Homo sapiens: one gene and its partner. Changing the gene in region 1 together with any one later gene gives a genetic interaction. Each region holds a gene or a part of one and is shown in the gene's direction. Other genes may lie near its edges.

The links. Genes that interact genetically often act in the same process or in processes that back each other up.
Region 2: of CARM1 (region 1) and RABGAP1, changing one suppresses a phenotype caused by changing the other (phenotypic suppression), as found in Homo sapiens cells (one study listed by BioGRID).

The regions. Positions count from the first base shown.
Region 1 is NC_000019.10:10,874,548-10,881,574, forward strand, and holds part of CARM1 (histone-arginine methyltransferase CARM1), read left to right. Parts: intron 1-7,027. UniProt on the Homo sapiens protein: Methylates (mono- and asymmetric dimethylation) the guanidino nitrogens of arginyl residues in several proteins involved in DNA packaging, transcription regulation, pre-mRNA splicing, and mRNA stability.
Region 2 is NC_000009.12:122,986,014-122,993,040, forward strand, and holds part of RABGAP1 (rab GTPase-activating protein 1), read left to right. Parts: intron 1-201; coding exon 202-406; intron 407-3,283; coding exon 3,284-3,458; intron 3,459-4,042; coding exon 4,043-4,200; intron 4,201-7,027. UniProt on the Homo sapiens protein: May act as a GTPase-activating protein of RAB6A. May play a role in microtubule nucleation by centrosome. May participate in a RAB6A-mediated pathway involved in the metaphase-anaphase transition.

The DNA.
Region 1 (7,027 bases):
CCCAGCTAATCTTTCATATTTTTTGTAGAGAAAGGGTTTTCACTGTGTTGGCCAGGCTGGTCTCAAACTCCTGGGCTCAAGTGATCCTCCCTCCTTGGCCTCCCACAGTCCTGGAATTACAGGCATGAGCCACCGCACCGCCCTCTTTATCCTTAAGTAACATTGATATGGAGATAAAAAACATGGGTTCTTGGCCAGGCGTGGTGGCTCACACCTGTAATCCCAGCACTTTGAGAGGTTGAGGCAGGCGAATCACTTGAGGTCAGGAGGTTGAGACCAGCTTGGCCAACATGGCAAAATCTCGTCTCTGCTAAAAATGCAAAAATTAGCCAGGTGTGGTGGTACCTGCGACTGTAGTCCCAGCTACTCCGGAGGATGAGGTGGGAGGATCGCTTGAACCAGGGAAGCAGAGGTTACAGTGAGCTGAGATTGCACCACTGCATGTCAGCCTGGGTGACAGAGCAAGACCCTGTCTGAAAAAAAAAAAAAAAGCATGGGTTCTGGAGTTGGAGGTGATCAGTGCTGGGTGTATTAATTTCCCATGGCTGCAATAACAAATTATGACAGATTTTTGGTTTAAGACAACAGGAATGGATTCTCTCTCAGTTCATGGTCAGAAGTCTGAAATCATGGTACTGGCAGGGCCACAATCCCTGGAGAGGTTCTACAGGAAAATCCTTGCATCTTCCAGATTGCAGTGGATCCAGCTGTTGCTTGATTTGCAGCAGCGAAACCCAAGTCCCTGCGTCTGTCTTCACTCCTGTGTCTTGTGTCCTCTTTTTTCCTTTTTTTTTTAAAGTGAGATGGAGTCTCGCCGTGTTATAGGCTGGTCTCGAACTCCTAGGCTCAAGTGATCCTCCCACCTCAGCTGTTCTTTTCTTTTCTTTTTTTTTTTGAGACGGAGTCTGGCTCTGTCACCCAGGCTGAAGTGCAATTGCGCGATCTCCGCTTACTGCAAGCTCTGCCTCCTGGGTTCAGGCCATTCTCCTGCCTCAGCCTCCCGGGTAGCTGGGACTACAGGCGCCCGCCACCACGCCCGGCTAATTCTTTGTATTTTTAGTAGAGACGGGGTTTCACCGTGTTAGCCAGGATGGTCTCCATCTCCTGACCTCGTGATCTGCCCACCTTGGCCTCCCAAAGTGCTGGGATTACAGGCTTGAGCCACCGTGCCCGGCCCCAGCTGTTCTTTTCTTATAAGGACACTGGGCATTGGATTTAGGGCCCACTTTATATCTAGGATGATCTCATCTCAAGATCCTTATCTGCAAAGACCCTATTTCCTAATAAGGTCACCTTCACAGATTCCAGGGGTTACAACTTGGATGTCTGTCTTTTTTTTTTTTTTGAGATGGAATTTTGCCCAGGCTGGAGTGCAATGGCGTGATCTCGGCTCACTGCAACCTCTGCCTCCCGGGTTCGAGCGATTCGCCTGCTTTGGCCTCCCAAAGTCCTGGGATTACAGGGATTAGAGGCATGTGCCACCATGCCCGGTTAATTTTTTTTGTATTTTTAGTAGAGATGGGGTTTCTCCGTGTTGGTCAGGCTGGTCTCGAACTCCTGACCTCAGGTGATCCGCCCACCTTGGCCTCCTAAAGTGCTGGGATTACAGGTGTGAGCCACCGCCACCAGCCTCACATATGGCTAATTTTTAAGTTTCTTCTAGCGATGCGGTCTCACTATTTTGCCCAGGCTGGTCTTGAACTCCTGGGCTCAAGCAGTCCTCCTGCCTTGGCCTCCCAAAGTGCTAGGATTACAGACGTGAGCCACTGCGCCCGGCCAATAAATATTTATGTCCATGTTACTGACAGCAGTGTTCGTTGGTGTGGCATGGGAATGAGCTAGCTTTTCTAGGAGGAGCCCCCTATGCTCCAGGGCTGCCCCGCTGTCTTGGCTCACCGGCCATGGGAGGGAGTCCTGGGCCATGATCTGTACCTAACATAGGAGGCCCAGGAGAGGCACGTGGGGAGGACTTCCAGCCCTGTTCCTTGACGTCTGCACCCTCCAGGGGAAGGATGACAGCTGCAGAAGGGCCTGTCTCTGTCACTCTGTAGTGAACAGTTACTTCTTGCCATCTGAAGTCACCCTGGCCTACGTCCATGAGATTGGCCAAATGGCAACTACCAACACCAGGCCATTTTCCCTGTGCAGAGGGGGAGGCCCTTTGGCGTGGGCTTCCTGGGCTTGAGGAAGCTTTGGCATGGCCTCTGGAGTTCCTGGGCATAGGCTGCCCTCCCTTGGAAAGGAGGCAGTTTCTCAGGGAGGGGTGCCGGGAAAGAGAACAGAACAAACTCTCACTTCCCCAGCCCTGTGGCGCTCTTTCTGGAAATGACTGTGTCACTTTTCTTTCTTGGTCAGCACGAGTCAGTGTGGCCAGTGCTTTAGACTCTCCCATCCCCTTGGCTCAGAAGCTTACACAGCAGCATGGGCTCCGTCAGGGGCTAAACTTCAGTTTGTGAGGGGCATGCCATGGGGTGGAAAGTTCAGAGAAAAACCCTTTGTCCAAAGAAGGTGAAGAATGGCCTGCTGTCACCGAACCAGGGGCCCTTGTGACTTCCTTTGGTTACACTCCTGGGATCCCCCTGACAGCTGGGGCAGGGGTATAGAAGAGCTTGTTATGTGCCCCATCTTTAGGACATCTCGGTGTCAAGCTGGAGTGACAACAGGGAAAGTTAGTAACCCCAGAAAGGCATTTGTGTTTCAGCGGTGCCTGCGTGTGGCTAATGGATACCGTCATTTATTGAGCATTTATCCCGTACCAGACTGTGCATAAACTTGTGTTGACTCAAAATGCTTGACCTTGGGGGCAGCTAGGGAAAGGGCAGTGATATAAATTAGGCCTATGGGCCACATTGAGCCTGTGGCCTATTTTTATCTGTGTTTGTATTTTATTAGTGAGACAGAGTCTCACTGTGTTGCCCAGGCTGGAGTGCAATGGCATGGTCTTGGCTCACTGTAACCTCCACCTCCCAGGTTCAAGTGATTCTCATGCCTCACCCTCCTGAGTAGCTGGGATTACAGGCCTGTGCCACCACCCTGGCTAATTTTTGTATTTTTAGTAGAGACAGGGTTTCACCATCTTGGCCAGGCTGGCCTCGAACTCCTGACCTCAAATAATCTGCCTGCCTCAGCCTCCCAAAATGCTGGGATTACAGGTGCGAGCCACCGCACCCAGCCTGTGTTTTATTATTTATTTATTTTGAGATGGAATCTCGCTCTGTTGCCCAGGCTGGAATGCAGTGGCGCAATCTCGGCTCACTGCAACCTCTGCCTCCCAGGTTCAAGCGATTCTCCTGTCTCAGCCTCCCGAGTAGCTGGGATTACAGGCACATGCCGCCATGCCCAGCTAATTTTTTGTATTTTAGTAGCTCACTGCAGCCTCTAACTCCTGGGCTCAAGTGATCCTCTGGCCTCATCCTCCCAAGTAGCTGGGACTACAAGCACATGTCACCACCCTTGGCTAATTTAAGCAATTTTTTTAGAGACAGAGTCTTGCTGTGTTTCCCAGGCTGGCCCCAAACCCCTGGCCTCAAACCATCCTCCTCCTGCCTGAGCCTCAGAAGTAGCTGGGATTATAGTCACGAACCGCTGGGCCCGGTGTGGCCTATTTTTGTACAGACAAAGCTAAGAAAGGCTTTTACAGTTTTTGAGAGATTGATTAGGGAAAAAAACTAAAACCCAATCCACAAACAACAATAATCAGTTGAGACCACAGTGTCCTGCAAAACCTGAAATATTTACTCACTGGCCCGAGGCAGGGGAAGCTTGTAGACCCCTGGGATAAATGAATGAGGCAGGCAGGAGTTGGGGTCTGTGGGGAGTTTGGCCCCAGCCAAAAGAGAAACCAAAAAATCCTCAGGCCGAATAGAGCATACTTCTGAATTGTGTGAGCCCCTTGTGCCAATTGTGGCGCTTACTGTATGTTACCACTTACTCTGAAAAGAGTTCTGTGAGGTCAGAGATACCAACCCCAATTTACTGGTGGAAAAACAGAAATGAAAGAACTTGACTGGCCAAAGTGATGTGGTTGGCAGGCAGCAGAGATGGCTTTGGCATTCTGGGTGACTGGATGCCCACCTTAAATGCATATATAAGTGGTTCAGTGACATTTATCTGTTCATCACAAAGACCCAAAGTAGCAGAGGCTTAATTAAACACGATGGCATTTTATTTTTTGTGCTCTAATGCTAAAGTGTGAAGATTGTCAGGTGCCAAAGTCTCCTGGGCTCTTGGAAGTTCCCAGATCCAGGTCCTCCCCCCGGCTTTTTTTTTTTTTTTGAGATGGTGTCTCGCTCTGTTGCCCAGGGGCTGCAGTGCAGTGGTGTGATCTCAGCTCACTGCATCCTCTGCCTCCCGGGTTCAAGCGATTCTCCTGCCTCAGCCTCCCAAGTATCTGGGACTACAGGCGTGTGCCACCACGGCTGGCTAATTTTTGTATTTTTAGTAGAGACGGGGTATCGCCACGTTGGCCAGGCTGTTCTCAAACTCCTGACCTCAGGTGATCCACCCGCCTCGGCCTCCCAAAGTGCTGGGATTACAGGCCACTGCCCCAGGCTGATCCTCCACCATTCTTAAGGTGAGGTCTTGTCCTCAGGTTTCAGCATGACTGCTGGAGTCCCGCCATTACACCCTGGCTTCCAGACAGCAGGACAGAGGAAGGGACAAAGGAGAAAGGGTGCAAAGGTCACATCCAGGTGTTTGTTAAGAAAGGTTCCCGGTAGCTGATGCAAGGTGCTTCAGCTTTCATTTTGTTGGCTAGAATGTAGTCACATGATCACTGCCAGCTGCAAGGGATGCTGGGAAATGTAGTTTTCAATCTGAGCGGCCATGTGCTCAGCTGAATTTAGGGTTCCAGTTTCCATGGACAAAGAGAGAACATACAGGGAGTCACCTTGGCCACAGTGGGTAGGATCTGGACCTGGCCAGAATGTTGGGAAGGACGTTTCTGGGTTATGGAGAGGTGCTCCAGTGGGCCAGGGCTGGAGACAGCCACCTGGCTTGGAGCACAGGGTCCCCTGTGAGGAGTGGAGGGGCTAAAAGTGGAAACAGGGCTGGGTTGGAATCGAGGATTTTTTTGGTTTTTTTGGAGATGAATTCTCGCCCTGTCACCCAGGCTGGAGCACAGTGGCTCAATGTCATCTCACTGCAACCTCTAGCCTCCCAGGTTCAAGTCATTCTCCTGCATCAGACTCCCAAGTAGCTAGGATTATAAGTGCGTGCAACCACACCCAGATAATTTTTGTATTTTTAGTAGATACGGGGGTCTCACCCTTTTGGCCAGGCTGGTCTTGAACTCCTGACCTCAAGTGATCCATCTGCCTTGGCCTCCCAAAGTCCTAGGATTACCGGCATGAGTCACCGCACCCAGCCTCAGGTGAAATCTTAATGGAAGGTGTCCAGTGCTGTGAGCAGCTCCTGGTCACCAAGCACTGGCCCTCTGTGTAGGGGGTCTGGATGAGATGGGTGGGCAAGGCCTTTCAACAGAAGCTGGAGTGTGGTGTGAACTTGCTAATGACTTTGAGATGCCAAGCCTCACACACCTCAGACCAGGTTGGATTTAGCAGGTGGAGAGGCTCAGGAAGACCTCTGTGGCAGGTGTGTCTCCTTTCTGCGGAAACCTGCTGCTTCTAAGGTCTGCTGGAGAACCTGGGAGGTGGTGAGTTTGCAAAGACATCCAGGGAAGCAGCCACTTAAGCGAGGGCAGGATGGAGGGGCCCACCTGGGCCACACCTGGCTGCTTGAGGTGGCGAGTTGAGGCTGGGAGGGGTTTCCATCAGTTCCATCAGCTCAGAGCTAGGATTTTTTTTTCTTCTTTTTTTGAGACAGGGTCTTGCTGTGTCACCCAGGCTGGAGTGCAGTGACACGATCATAGCTCATTGCAGCCTTGAACACCCAGGCTCAAGGGATTCTCCCTCCCTCAGCCTCTCTACAGGCTGGGACCACAGGCGCACATCACCATGCCTGGCTAATTTTTTTTTTTTTTTTTTTTTGTAGAGACAGGGTCTCACTATGTTGCTCAGGCGGATGTGGAACTCCTGGGCTCAAGCGATTCTCCTACCTTGGCCCCCAAAGTGCTGGGATTACAGGTGTGAGTCATGGCAGCCACGGCTCCAGAGCTCGGGTTCTTAATCTGGTCTGTGGATGGCCCCTGGGGGCGGTCCCATGAGCCCCTCACAATTGGACACAGTTTTGCAAAGGGGTAAAAGGACAAGAATCGGTAGCTGTGACTGTGGATGAGCCTCTGAGCTTCACTTTCCCTCCCTGAAAGGGGGTGACAGTGGCACCTCCCTGGAGGTTTTCGTGGAGGGGAGGAAACACATGTAAAATACTTCACCCCAGTTGGGCACAGAGGCTCATGCCTGTAATCCCAGGTTTTGGGAGGCCGAGGCAGCAGGGCGGTTTGAGTCCAGGAATTTACAACCAGCCCGGGAAACACAGTGAAACTGTATCTCTTAAAAAATAATTTAAAAAAATTAGCCGGCATGGTGGCACATGCCTCTAGTCCCAGCTATTCCAGAGGCTGAGGCGGGAGGATTGCTTGAGCCCAGAAGCTTGAGGCTACATTGAGCCATAATCGTACCACTGCACTCCATCCCGGGAAACAGGGCAAGACCTTGTCTCTAAAAAAAAATGCTTCTTGCTTGATGACTTGTGATATATGAAAAGGAAGAAAGAAAAGAAAAGCTTTGCCCTGTGTGCCTGGCCCGAAGTAAGTGCTCCATAAATTGGCCGTGGTGTAGCTGTGGATTCTCTGCACATTTTTCTGTGCAGAACCTCCCCTGATTTCGGTCAGCTTCTCAGAAGGATCTGTGACTGAAAAAGGGTACCAGTTCCTGGAGGACAGCACCTGATTGGGGAGTGGAGTCTGCCCTGGCTGGTAAGGGATTGGGGGCTCTCTGCGCAGGGCCAGGACATCTCTCCAGGGACAGGCGAGAAGCTTTGAAAGGGCAGGAAGGAGAGGGCAGCAAGGTCAGATGCCGTGAGAGGTCAGAGTGAGAGCCAAGGGGCGGTCACTGGATTTCTGAGCAGG
Region 2 (7,027 bases), on another chromosome or scaffold:
ACCTAAAAATCTTGGTGTTTCTGACAGAGTTCTAGTGTGGGATTTCTGGTTTTCATGGGCATTTCTTTTAGGGTATGGCATATTGTCTCATTAATACTTAATTTTAGACCTTAAATGTTACTTGCAGATTTTTACTTGCTAATCGTATCAACAAAATATCAAAGTGAAAGTAATCACTTCCTTATTCATTGTTTCTTTCAGATTCTGAAGCTTCAAGTCCTTTCACACCAGTGGCCGATGAGGACAGCGTAGTTTTCAGTAAACTGACTTACTTAGGCTGTGCCTCGGTAAATGCTCCCAGGAGTGAAGTGGAAGCCTTAAGGATGATGTCCATCTTAAGAAGCCAGTGTCAGATTTCACTAGATGTTACCCTTTCAGTGCCGAATGTGTCTGAAGGAATTGTGAGGTGAGACTGGTTTGTTGAAATCTTTCGATATTTACATCAGATCTCTGACCTGTTGCTTCAGAAAGAAGCAATAGTGAATAAAATACATATTAATAGTTATTTTACTTGTGTAACGTTTCATTTACCTGGCACTCATGTCTCCCAAGGACTGTGACCTTTGTGAAAAATGGTTACTTATTTGTAATAGTTTTTCGTACTCTTCCCGATCATGTGTAGTACATTAGGCATTTAATGTTTTGGGGATAAATGAAATATATTGACATGAGTCAGCCTAAAAGATTATATTTTCCATGTTCCTTTGATGAAAATACAAGCTTGACACATTATTTCAAAATGGAGTTTCATGTTGAGTTTGAAAGTTACAAAAATTTATTATTAAATATTAACTATACCAGCACACCCCTTAATTTTTATGATGAGAAAACTGGCTAGGTGCAGTGGTTCATGCCTGTAATCCCAGCATTTTGGGAGGCTGAGACGGGTTGATCACTTAAGTTCAGGGGTTCGAGACCAGCCTGGGCAGCCTGGGCAACATGGTGAAACCCTGTCTGTACAAAACATACAAAAATTAGCCACGCATGGTCATACACACCTATAGTCCCAGCTACTCAGGAGGCTGAAATGGGAGGATCACCTGAGCCTGGGAGTTCAAGGCTTCAGTGAGCTGTGATCATGCCACTTCACTCCAGACTGAGTGACAAAGTGAGACCCTGTCTCAACAAAGCAAAATGAAAAAAAAAGATGAGAAAACTGAGGCACAGAGAAGCCTCTAGCTGTTTATACTAATAGAACAAATAACAATTGCAGATAGCTAATCAGATGTCTGTATCAACCAGCTAAATATACTGTTGCTCAATAAGTCAGATGAATGCAGGTAAAATAAATTTTTTTTCCCTATTACCAAAGATACATGCTTATTTAAAAAAATTGCCACATAAAAATAGCCTTAATTCTACTCTACCACTAATAAATACAGTTAACATCTTGGCTTATTAAGATCTTCTTTGCATATTGGTATATGTATATGTCTAGGTATATGTAAATATACCTGCATATATATACATACATAATTTACAACTGTTAGAATCAACTTTTTTTTTTAACAGCAATGGACCTGTACATACCATCTTGTACTTAGTTTTATATCGTAAACCTCTTTTCATGCCAGTAAATATTATTAAAAATTTTAATTTATGATGGCATATGAATGGGTTATAAATAAATAACCCATCTCTTATATTAGACATTTTAAGGCTTTTATCTTTCAGAGAAAAAAGCATGAATGATGATAGCTAGTTTTAATTATATGGGAATATCAGTGTTTTATAAATAGGTATCTTTGAGCTCAATCTTTTTAGACTTCTGTTGATTTCCTTAGGATAAATTCCTAGAAGTAAACTTATTGAGTTTGTCTATTTTTATTGCTTCTAATAACATTGCCAACTAGCCATCTAGAAATATTGATCTAGTTTATACTTTTATCAGCAGTATATAGAATATCCATTTCTCAGTATCCTCAGAAGTATTTTGGACTTTCATGGTGACAGAGTAATAGCTGTGTGTTGATTGTAGTAAAATAATCTGTATATGTAATTTTTCCCCTTAAGTATTTAAATAACTATTTTGCAAAGACTCACAAATTCTATTTATTAATGATAAACTATTAATAAAATGTGTTTAGCACTCATTTCTATATGTTTCTTAGTCAATACTCATTCCTCTAACTGAAGTTAGACTTTAATATATTTTTAATTCTATAAAAGAAGTTAGAAAGCTAGTCGGTTTTACCCCACATTTTTAGAGTTTTCATAAAAGTGCTTTCAAACCTGTGTTAGATCCTCTTCCTAGGTATTTCCGTGATGAGCAAGGCCTTCTAGGCTTTCCCATTAATGGCTCTACCCACATAGTGTTGAAATTGCATAGTTTCTTTTTAGACCTTCCATAGTTGTGCCTTACTGCCCTGATCAGAGTCTGGAATGTTGTAGGTATCACATAAATATTTGTTGAATAAGTAGATTTTTGAATGAATGCTATCCCTTTGATTTTTTACTGAATGGCATCCTTTTGCTTTTATTCATGATTTTTTTTTTTTTGAGGAGTTAACATTTTGTATAATTTCTGTCCTTATTTTCCATGAATCAAAAAAAAACTTGTTTCAGTCTGAGAAAAAGCATCAGTTTTTTGTTTTTTATTTTTTCATAACAGATTAGGTCATTTTTAAAGGAGATAATTAGAAGCACAGCTTTGCCCAGGTGTGGTGGCTTATGCCTGTAATCCCAGCACTTTGGGAGGCCTAGGTGGGCGGATCACCTGAGGTCGGAAGATTGAGACCATTCTGGCTAACCTGCCCTGTCTCTACTAAAAATACAAAAAATTAGCCGGGCATGGTGGCACATCCCTGTAATCCCAGCTACTTGGGAGGCTGAGGCAGGAGAATCACTTGAACCCAGGAGGCGGAGGTTGCGGTGAGCTGAGATTGCGCCATTGCACTCCAGCCTGGGCAACAAGAGCGAAACTTGTCTCAAAAAAAAAAAAAAAAAAGCACAGCTTCAATGATGTATTTTGGTAGTCTAATTTACGTATTAATCGTCTTTATTTTGTAGCAGACTGTATAAGAAATGTGCTTATTGATATTGTTTATACCTTTCTGTTTGCCTCCCTAAAACATGATACTATATGGTTTTTAGTACTATGGAATTACGTAATCAATAGCTTCCGGAATTCACATATGAGTTACTTATTAAAATTTAAGGTTAATATCAGCATACCAAATATATGATCTTCTTACTAGAAAGAATGAGTCTCACATCTTAATCTAAACGTAGTGCAGATTGTTCATAATTCCTGTAATCTCTCTGTATCTTTTTCTCTGAACAGACTCTTAGATCCTCAGACAAACACTGAAATAGCAAACTACCCTATCTACAAAATCCTCTTCTGTGTCAGAGGGCATGATGGAACTCCTGAGAGTGACTGTTTTGCTTTCACTGAAAGTCATTACAATGCAGAGCTCTTCAGAATACACGTCTTCCGGTGTGAAATACAAGAAGCTGTAAGTCCTCAAGAGAAAACTCTCTGCAAATGAAACTTCACCAGTGCCCTCACTAGGTTGAAATGATTATGGTATTTATTATGATCACTCATAAGCCAGATGAAATTCTCTGCTATTGTTTTAGTGATTCTAGCCTCATGGGCCAAAATATAAATTAACTAAAAATTTGATTAACTAGAACTTTGTTACTACTACTAAGAATGTCAGAGGAGATCTGTTGGCTACTTTTGATTGGGTTAAGTAGGCATTCTGGTTCTAACATTGACAGATTTGCAAACCATTCTTTTAAATCAAAACTTGTTAGGACTGTTTTCATTGTAATATCTTCAGATAGTTTCTAACAATTTAGGAAGTGATTTTTAAATTGGATTTATAGTGCTTACAACCATTTCTTTTTTAAAACCCCTTGTCTGGACATTTTTAGTGTTGCTTGCTTTATAGGCCTAACAAATTAGGTAATTTACCAAAAGAAATAAGTGGGATAAAGATAATTATTGCCCTCCAAAGTAGGTAATCTTCCAGCCTTAATAAAGGTATTTTATATCTTTTGATAACAGCCCATTTCCTAACATGTCTGGTTGTAGGTAAGCCGGATACTTTACAGTTTTGCCACTGCCTTCCGCCGTTCTGCCAAGCAGACCCCACTTTCAGCCACTGCTGCACCCCAGACTCCTGACAGTGACATCTTTACCTTCTCTGTGTCTTTAGAAATAAAAGAAGATGATGGTAAAGGTTATTTTAGGTAGGGAATCTTATTTTATTCATGTATTAACATGCTGTGGTTCAGGGGAAATTCTAGGTCAGATTATAACTTTCATACCATAAAATGATGGCTTTTAAAGGGAGGGCTTTTAAAAAAAATCTGGATGATAAAGGCATATAAATACATAAATTTAACAGAGGCAAAGTTTGAAGAATTTTAAAGCAATTAAAAAAATTGTCATATTGGGAACATGTTGCTACCTTCTTTTAGTCAGATACCAAGTGGCTAACTGCTCACAAAAATATGGCCAAACCGCCAGGCGCTGTGGCTCACACCTGTAATCCCAGCTCTTTGGGTGGCTGAGGCGGACGGATCACCTGAGGTCGGGAGTTCGAGATGAGCCTGACCAACATGGAGAAACCTTGTCTCTACTAAAAATACAAAATTAGCCGGGCGTGGTGGTGGGTGCCTGTAATCCCAGCTACTTGGGAGGCTGAGGCAGGAGAATCGCTTGAACCCGGCAGGCAGAGGTTGCAGTGAGCCGAGATCCTGCCACTGCACTCCAGCCTGGGCAACGAGAACGAAACTCCGTCTCAAAAAAAAAAAAAAAAAAAAAAAAAAAATATATATATATATATATATATATATATATATATATATATGGCCAAAGCTTAGTCAGCTGGATTTGTAGCTATATTTGTTTTGCTGATTGTATTTGCTTGTTTTAGTTGGTTGATTTACTTATATTAATAATCTAAAAATCTTAAGCCTTTTCAAGTCAAGTTTTCCCAGTAAAGTTATCTGCATACATTGGAAGGGGAGAAATAAGGTCTGTGTCTGAAGTCTAATCTTTTGTAGGGTTAGAAGTGACTGATTTTAATTTTTAAATATAATGATAATCCTTTGAGTGGTGGAAAGAACCATGGAATAGAAGTCAAAACTTAGCTTTAGTTTAATTATTGTTACTATTAACAGTGTCCCCATTTCCAAGTTTCTTTACATCTGTCAGTAGTTTCCTCATTTATTAAATGAGGTGGCTAGACTCTAAAACCCTTTCTCACTTTAAAATTTTATGGTTGCAAGATGACTTGATGTTTTTAAAATTACAGCCCATGTCCCAAAATGATTGTATTATAATCAGTAATTGCATGTAGAAGTCTGTTTCCTCCATGACTACCTCATTAAATTGGTAAAATGAAGTTATATAAAAATATGAATATTTCTAATATTTTGCTTTTAAATTAAGCACAGTGATTGGTTTATTAGATTATTAGAAAAACTGATAATTTTTAGTCTTTCTTCAGACTTTGGAATTGTCATGCCATCTGGTGGCCAATTTAGTGTACAGTGCAGCTTAAACTTTGAGGAGTAAAGTATGACTCATTGTGCTCTATGCTTTCTAATTAGATAGATTTCTATTCTCTCTCTCTCTTTTTTTTTTTTTTTTGAGATACGCCTCACGCTGTTGCTCAGGCTTGAATGCAATGGTACAAACATGACTCACTGCAGCCTCAGCCTTCTGGTCTCAAGCAGTCCTCCCACCTCGCCCTCCTGAGTAGCTGGGACCACGGATGCATGCCACTATGTCTGGCTAATTTTTTTTTAAGTTTTTCTAGAGATGGGGTCTTGCCACATTGCCCAGGTTGGTCTTGAACTCGTGGTCTCAAGTGATAGTCTCAGCTTGTCAAAGTGTTGGGATTACAGGCATGAGCCAACCATTCCTGACTATTTCTATTCTCAAAGCAATGCTGTGAGGTAGTCCTTCCTGCAATGTACCTTCCTGCCCTGCAAAGTGAAAATTATAATCTGTATAATTTTAAGTAGTTTTTTACCTTGTTAAGCAACCTTTAAACTAAATATATTTTCTTTCTTTTTTTTTTGAGACAGAGCCTTGCTCTGTCACCAAGGCTGGAATGTAGTGGCACGATCACGGTTCACCGCAACCTCTGTCTCCCAGGTTCAAGCAATTCTCATGCCTCAGCCTCCTGAGTAGCTGGGATTACAAGCATCTGCCACCATACCGGGCTAATTTTTTCTATTTTTCAGTAGAGACAGGGTTTCGCCGTGTTGGCCAGGCTGGTCTCAAACTCCCGGCCTCAAGTGATCCATTTACCTGGGCCTCCCAGAGTGCTGGGATTATAGGCATGATTCACCATGCCTGGCCTTTTTTTCTTTATTGAAAATATTTATGTAGTTTTGGTCTGTAAATTCTAATTATTAAATAGGAAAGATTAAGATCCCTCAGAAGTATCAGTATAACTTCCCTTCCTTCTGAAATCAGGCATATTCAAGGTAGAATGATCATAAACATCTCTGTTCTATTTGTTAATACTGACAAAGTGCTATTACAGAAAATCCCTGGATGGTCAGATTTGCTTTTCACATTTGTTAGGACTTTGTTCTCCTTTTGCTACATGGCTTTGCTGAATTTCTGGTTTATAATAAATACTGTTATGTTAACTTAAATATATTATTTAAGTATAATGATCAATATACCTAAATATATTAGGTTAATATATATTATTTAGGTATAATAATAATTATATATTATACATATAAATTATGTAATAGTTATATACCTATTATTATATAAAACCTATTATATACTTACTATTATACCTAAATATTTATTTTATCTAAATATTATACCTAAATAATTATTATACCAAAATAATTATTATACCTAAATATATTAGGTTAACACAACAGTACTTTAGATGTATGAAATCCTAGCAAAATATACCTTGGTTTGTCAGATTTAAACTTGTCAAAGGTAGTTCCTCTTATCCAGTAATTCTGTAATATGTATGGAAATTTATCTGCAGAAATAATCATTGAGGTTTTCAAAGAATTATTATTATGAATG